Homo sapiens: one gene and its partner. The protein of the gene in region 1 interacts with the protein of each later gene in a biochemical or structural test. Each region holds a gene or a part of one and is shown in the gene's direction. Other genes may lie near its edges.

Region 1 (4,206 bases):
GGTGAGCGGGGCTGAGCAGGAGCTGGGTCAGACTGTTGGGTGTGACCGTGTGAGACTGTGCAGACAGTGACAGGGCGCCTGTCGCCCACACTCCACACTGTTTGCCATTCTCCAGCAGCATGGGGACCATTACTCAGCTCTGAGGGGAGCAGGAGCACTCTCCTCCGCTCCCCGGGGCTCCCCAGGAGGCAGACAACCCAGTTGCCAGAGTCAAGGACACACATAAAAGAGTAAAGGTGTTGAAAAATACAGTCGTCACCTTTGATATTGCTGTTCCATGCGGGGCGCGGCGAGGGTCTTATTCATTCAGCGGCTGTCGCTGGGCTTGTTTCTCCATTTGTCTGCTCTGTCTTTGGGGGTGGGGGACGAGTGTGTCATTTGAAGCAGTGACTCCTCCCTCCTCCCCCCAACACCTTCCCAAACACTGAGAATGGGGGGACTTTGAAGAAATACTGCCAGCAGGGGATGTGATTTTGGACCTCACAATCAAAGGGAAGGGACGAAAGGCCTGGGGAGGCTTGAGAGGGAGAGGAATGTCACCCCTGCCCAGAGGTGCTGAAAGCCAGGGCTCTTACACCCGAAAAGGCAACTCCTCCCTTCCCCCAGGATAATTGGAAACAGCCCTTCCTGCGCAGCGCCGGTTTGGGGTTGTAGGTACGCCCCTTCTTCTCCCAGCCCCGCTTCTCCCCCCAGCCATCTAGGAAAGACCCAAGTGTATCCCCTAAACTCTTGTTTTTCACTAACCCCCAGGTAACAACAGCACTTGGTCCATGGAGCAGTGACAAAAGAGACCCCAAGAGTGGGAGGTGCGCAGCCTGGGTTTGGTTTCTAGCTTTATCCCAGACTTCCTGTGTGACCTTGGGCAAGTCACGGGGCCTCCCTGAGCCTCAGTTTCCTCATCTCTGCAATGGGATCGTTAGCTCTGCCCCTCCCACTTCACACAGGTAGTCGTGACGATCAGCTCCGCCGCACTTTGTAAAGCGCCAAGCCTTCAAGGTTATTATTATTCTCTCCAAACCTGCCGGGAGCAGCGGTGTTGTTTTGGGATGGAGGAGGAGGCTGCGGGAGCGAAAGGGGTGGGTTCCTCGGGGTGGAGAGGGCGAGAGCCTTTCTGGATTCGAGAGAGGAAGATTCCAGCAGCTTGGGCGATCGGAGGGCAGGAGGGGAGCCGGGCAGAACTCAGCCGGAGCCAGAGGCTCGGAGAGACAAAGGGGGCGTGACAGCCCGCGCCGGGGGCTGAGGCGGGGCGGCGGGCGGGAGGTGCGCGAGGTGAGGGAGGTGTGGGGGGCGTGGGCCGCGGGATGCTGCCGCCCGCTCCGCCTCGAGCTCCAGCTCCGGTTTTTCCCTCCACCATCCTCTGCCCCTCCCCGCCTCTCCTTTAACTCCCCCCTCCTGGGCTCGGGACTGGTTTCCTCCCTTAGCCCGCTGCCCTCAATCCCAGCGAGGCTGGGGCTCCGGCTCGGCGCCCCCTTCCTCGCTCCCTGGTCCGGCGCCCCATGCCGCCCCCGCCCGGTCCCCGGCTCCCCCAGTCCCCCACTTAGGCGGGCTCACAGATCCCGGGGTGCTGGCGCGTGGGCCGGGGGCGCGTAGGGCGCCTGCAGACGGCCCCTGGAAGGGCTCTGGTGGGGCTGAGCGCTCTGCCGCGGGGGCGCGGGCACAGCAGGAAGCAGGTCCGCGTGGGCGCTGGGGGCATCAGCTACCGGGGTGGTCCGGGCTGAAGAGCCAGGCAGCCAAGGCAGCCACCCCGGGGGGTGGGCGACTTTGGGGGAGTTGGTGCCCCGCCCCCCAGGCCTTGGCGGGGTCATGGGGCCCCCCCATTCTGGGCCGGGGGGCGTGCGAGTCGGGGCCCTGCTGCTGCTGGGGGTTTTGGGGCTGGTGTCTGGGCTCAGCCTGGAGCCTGTCTACTGGAACTCGGCGAATAAGAGGTGAGTGGCCTGCGGCTGGGGAGATCCCAGACCCTAGGGCAGTGGGTAGGGAAGCTCTGGGGGCTTGGAGGCGGGCTTCTGTGGGCAGGGAGGAGGCGGGAGGGAAGGTGCTGGTGCTCTGATGTGTGATGGGTTACTAGACAGGTGATCTTGGGAGCCAGACTCCGGGTCCCACGCAGAGCTGGATGCGGGTGGTGCTATGGATGTCAGGAGTTTGGAGACCCCAAAGGGGCAAGGAGAAGAAAGTTCATGGGTAGCCGGGAGGGCAGTGAGGTGGGTATTTGGATCTGTGGGAGGCCTGCGTCGGGGGCTGGGCTTGGAGGGAGCCTGGTTACTGTCAGCTCTCAGGAGAGAGCTGCAGATTAGGTGCTGCGAGTCGCTGAGGGGAAGGCAGGGCAGGGTGCCTCCCTCCCCCAGAGGGACTGCGCATCCGAGATGGGAGGCAAGGGGGTTCCGTTTGGGGGCTCTGGGGACAACTTCCCCAAGGCTCCTTGACTCTCTTCACAGTCTGTCTCCCAACTCTTCCCCACAGCCAGAGGGTCAGTGAACTGTTGGCTGAACGATTTCCCAGCCAGAACATATTCCTGCCTTCCTGGCTTGCCGGCATCTTGCTGGAAGAAGCCTGGAGCCCCCTGAACCCTCCTTCCTTCCCTTTTGCATCTGGAGGACTCCATTGCCCCCTCCCCCAATCTTTGCTGCAAACTCTTCCATCAGACCCTCTGTTCCATGGCATGCCAGCTTTGCTCTGAAAAGAGGCCAGGGGTCAGATGAAACTTCAAGCCACGCTGGGTAGGACAGAACCTTCGGGAGGTCACCTGGGTCCCTTGCCTACATGCGGATCCCACTTCCCGCTCATAAAAGAGTTCTGTGTTTTGAAAAATTCCTACTTCCCTGGGGAGACTGTGTGAGGCCATGGGAAGGGGGTGGGCTTTGGAGCTCATCAAATCTTTGGTCTTAATCCTAGCTCTGCCGCTTTCAGCTGTGTGGCCTTGGGCATGTCACTTAACCTTTCTGAGTTTGTATCCTCAATCCTTACAGCTATTATGAGGATTAGCGGTAAGGTGTTTGAATGTATTATGTGCTCATTAAAGGAGAGCTAGGATTATTGTTCCTCTCTTTACTTCCCAGCCTCCCTCACACTTCTCTGCTCTGCCATCCCTCCCTCTCTTTTCCCTGGATCTCTTTGGGTATAATCTCAATGTCTTTTCTGTACTCAGTCACCCACCTGCCAACTCCCAGCTGCAATGTGAGTATCAGGTGTGTAGCTTGAGAACATAAGCTTGTTTTCACAGGGTAGAGAAAAGGGAGTTAGGGTGTCCTGGGGGCTCTTTCGGATGTGGGGTGGGAGTGGGACACTTGGGAGTCTGGGAAGATATCAAGTAGCAGTCCCCTGGGACCCAGTCCTGAGACCCTGTCTCAGCAGCTATTGATGTCCAGGAAGGGGCTGCAGGGGTTGGCAAGTTGTGGCTGTGCTGGGACAGTGGATGCCTGGGTGCACTGGCCAAGGAGATGGTGAAGTGTGTTGGTTGTGGTTAGAAAAGTCAACTCCTTTCCTTTCCAAAGCAATAGAGCACTTGCCCCAGAAGTCTAAGACCCAGTGTGGGATTCTGAGTGGGAGAATGACTCAGGCAGCAGGTTCCTAGACCCTGGTTCCCATCAGCCCCAATGATGGTCGTGGCCAAACCAGGCATTTGCCTTCTGTGCTATTAGCTGGCTAACTTAGGACACTGGTCTGGACCACCCTCCACACAGCCCCTCCCTGAACCGCCGCCCCCTTTGCCCGGAAATCCCTGAAATTCAGTGGTGGCCTGAAGGAGGGGAGGCTCTGCCCGCATGGTTGGCTGCCATGGAATAGTGAAATCACCTGGGAGGGGTGGGCTGTGTGGTTCCAGAGAGGCCAGCTCCTTGGTAACTGGCATCCTGTTGCCATGGCAACGGGGCTGGTGATGGAGCGGGAGATGGCGGTGTGCATGTGGTGAGGGCGGGCTGAAGAGTGGAGTGCATTTGGGCACACCAAGGGGCAGGAGACCCCTGAGCCTGGCTTCCTGCTGCTTCCAATGTGAATGCACAGAGTCCTTGGTGCCTGCTCTATAAGAAGAGACTTTCCACTCAGACAAAGGCGGGCAAGCGTGAGCTGAGAATTGCTGTCCTGGAAGGTTGTGGGGTGAGGGAAGGAAAGTTCTGGGGGCCAGGCCTCTGACATCTCTTCCTTGTCCACCTTACCCTCCTCCCCATAGGTTCCAGGCAGAGGGTGGTTATGTGCTGTACCCTCAGATCGGGG
Region 2 (3,500 bases), on another chromosome or scaffold:
AGTTTGAGTGGCATTTTGAAGGCTTGTTTTCCAGCATCTTGACCACCATGATGAGTTATAAGGGTAATGGCTAAAAACATGGGTTTTGAAGTCTTTCAGACCTAGGCGGAAATCCAGTCTACCACTTGGTCTATGTAACCTTAGGTGAGTCAGTTTCTTTATCCTTAAAATGTGAATAATGATAATAACTACCTCATTGGGTTGTTATGAAGAATAAGTAGGATCATGTATATTAGGACCTTAGCCTAAGTTAGTGCTTGTTTGTTATCTGTCTGTCTGCTGTCCGAGTATATTCTCACAGATAAAATGGGGAAGAGCTCCAAAAACAGTGAGAGAAGGTATTCACAGATAAAGCATTTGCTATAGATAATTCTCAGATGCACACACCTACCATCATTAAGAGCGGTTGACGAGAGCATTTGCCATATGTATGTGTAGCAGGTAGGGCTGGCCCTGCATGAATGCAGAAAAGAATAAAATTTGAAGAATTATAAGAATGCTTCCCCTGCCCTCCTCCCACATATGCACATCCCAGCATATCTCCCATATACTTTACACATTCAGACCCCGGAATTCTAATATAGAGCCTTATTCTTTTAGGATCCCTCCATCAACAGGCCTCTTTGAAATGCAAACTCTTCGGCATTATATGTAGCCTGTTTAACAGGTTCTGACTAAAGCATTAGTAACTTGTCAGATTTATTTCCTTCTGCTAGAAGAGATTCAAGATAACAAGAACAACAGAGCACTGGTGGAAAAGCTCTGAAAAGGGGTGGGGACAGGGGTAGGAACAGTTCCAAGTGGGACATACGTTTACAGCTGACTTTCAGATAGAGGGTATCCATGTAAGAGTCCAGCTGTGCCCAGATACCAGGCCCTAAACCAGGGTGTTCACCCCGACCCCTACCATACCCCATGCCTTTTCCCATTTCAGAGGTGATGGGGCTATTAGCAGCTCAGGTTATTAGACTCTATTCACTCTACTTTCAGGGTCAGCAGTAACATAGCTCATCAACTTCCCTACCTCTAATCTTTGGCAGCCAGGTAATGCTTTGTCTTGGGACCTGCCACTTGATTGTGCTACAGAGACATGGGCCAGAGACAACAAGGGAGCTCATTCACAATCCTTGGCACCAGGGCTCATCTGTTGATTCTCTTTCTGGGTTTAGATTACATGCACAGCGCCCACCGCCCTGTCACTGGGGGCCACCTGGGGAAAAAGGAGAGTAGTTATGTGGGCAGCGTGGGCACCAGCCCCAGGAAATCGAGCCGCTGCACGCCCCCACCTGCCGACTCTGAGCTTGTCAGCTTCTGCTACCTCCATATGCGGGAACAAAGGAAGGAGCAGGAAAGCCGGACAGATGTCAACGAGAACCTAATCTTCTTTGAGGAGACCAGGCCCCGAACCAAGTCTGACCCCACATCCAAAAGCTCTGGCCAAGGTTATGAGGTAGTCCCTGATGACTTTGATGCAGCTAGCCTAGACCACGAGCCTTGTGCCAGCAGGGCCCGGTCCTACACCTTGGACAATTCCCTTGGGGCTGAAGCCCTGAATTTCTACTGTGACTCTTGCAAAGCCAAACTTCAGGAGCAGCTGGGCCCTCGCAAAGGTGGGAAGCCTGGCTCCTCTCGTGACAATATAGTAGATTTGATGTCCCTCCCACCACCTGGGAGTGAGGAGGAGGAGGAGGAGGAAGATGAGACAACTTCTCTGTTGCCAGCCATTGCTGCCCCACCCCCTGGTTTCCGAGACAACAGCTCTGATGAGGATGACCCCAAGCGCCGGGCTGTCCAGAGCCAGGAACAAGGACGCCACCTGCGTGGGCTTCTGTACGATGAGATTCCAGTGACATTGATTGACAGTGTGCAGACCCGGACAGTTCGAGATCATGCCCAGGAGCTAGATGATGCCCTGGTGTCCACTCTGCAGGCTCTAGAAGCCCTGGCTGCATCCGAGGATGGACCACACCCACCACCCCCACAGACTGCAGGTAATGACCGATTCCTTCTCCCTCTTTCCACCCCCTTCTCTTGTCCAACAAGGGCCAGTAGGTAACATTGTGTCTTCCCAAATAGGTGTCAGAGTCACTGAGGTATGTCAGGGCAGTGGATGTACCAAAGGTTCTTTAGATAGGGTCAGAGGAGCAATGATGTTACAGCAGGGAGCAGCTGCTCAGCTCTAGCTAGAGTTCTGGCTCTCGTCATTGCATCTCTTTGGAAATGCCTTACAGATAGATCCCAGGGATTGGGGTCATGACAGCTATGGATGCAGGCCAGGATAGAGGATCAGAGAAAAACTGTGAGAGATGTAGAAGACAGGTGAAGAACAGAACATCCAGCATGCACATGATTGAAAGAAAAGGAAAACGACCAACTCACTACCTAGTGACCTGGGACCAGGGGAGCCAAGGGCCATCACTGCTCATGGCTGAGGTCTTTATCCTGCCTAAGAACATGGGCTCTGAATCAGATGCACCGAAGTCCTGGTTTCTTCAATCATTGTCAGTGTAACCTTTGGCAAGGCACTTACTCTCTCTGAACCTCATTCCATCATCTTAAATGGGTTTTATAAAAGTAGTTCTATCACATGGGGTTGTCACAAGGATTGAATGAGATCATTCATGCAAAGCATGTAAGCACTGCCTAGCACACAGTAAGGCCTCAGTAAGTGGTAGCTATTGTAACTAAGTATTAGTTCACAGGAAAACCGTACAACATGCATGCTGTTCCCTGTTATAAACACATGTATGTCCATCTTGTAGACAAACACATGTCAGACACATACCCATAGTCACACATATGTCCCTCCATATACATACACCTTAAAAAAAGAGAAGAGAGCTGGGCGTGGTGGCTCACACCTGTAATCCCAGCACTTTTGGAGGCCGAGGTGGGCAGATTACTTGAGGTCAGGAGTTCGAGATCAGCCTGGCCAACATGGTGAAAACCTGTCTCTACTAAAAATACAAAAATTAACTGGGTGGGCTGGTGCACACCTGTAGTCTCAGCTACTCAGGAGGCTGAGGCAGGAGAATCGCTTGAACCTGAGAGGCAGAGGTCGCAGTGAGCCGATACTGCACCACTGCACTCCAGCCTGGGTGACAGAGTGAGACTCTAAAAAAAAAAAAGAAGAAAAAAGAAAGAGAAGAGGTAAATGACACAGCAACAGAAAAGGAATAGGGAGGAATAGGGACCACGAGGGATTGGGGTCAGAGAGAGCCTGCCTTTTCCATGTGTGAGGACACCCTTGACATTGGACAACCCCCATGTATTTGGCCCCCAGGGCTGGCATTTCTCTTTGCTTAGAGTCTGGAGAGAGTGCTAGTTGCTCCCAGGCTTGAGTCCCACGTGGCTGCTGGAGAGAGGACAAGCTCAGCTAAATGGCCTCAGCTGCAATGACTGTAGGCGGGCCTGGCCAGATGAGGAGGGATAGAGAGAGACCTCTCTTTGCCAGCCCCTCTTTAGGACAATTAACAAAAATTTCCTAGCTGTTGAATCTA

The links.
Region 2: the proteins of EFNB3 (region 1) and FRMPD3 interact in a test that uses a peptide from one of them, tested with the Homo sapiens proteins (one large-scale study listed by IntAct).

What each region holds. Positions count from the first base shown.
Region 1 is NC_000017.11:7,703,796-7,708,001, forward strand, and holds the start of EFNB3 (ephrin-B3 precursor), read left to right. Parts: upstream 1-1,406; 5' UTR 1,407-1,803; coding exon 1,804-1,925; intron 1,926-4,162; coding exon 4,163-4,206. UniProt on the Homo sapiens protein: Cell surface transmembrane ligand for Eph receptors, a family of receptor tyrosine kinases which are crucial for migration, repulsion and adhesion during neuronal, vascular and epithelial development.
Region 2 is NC_000023.11:107,596,152-107,599,651, forward strand, and holds part of FRMPD3 (FERM and PDZ domain-containing protein 3), read left to right. Parts: intron 1-1,169; coding exon 1,170-1,991; intron 1,992-3,500.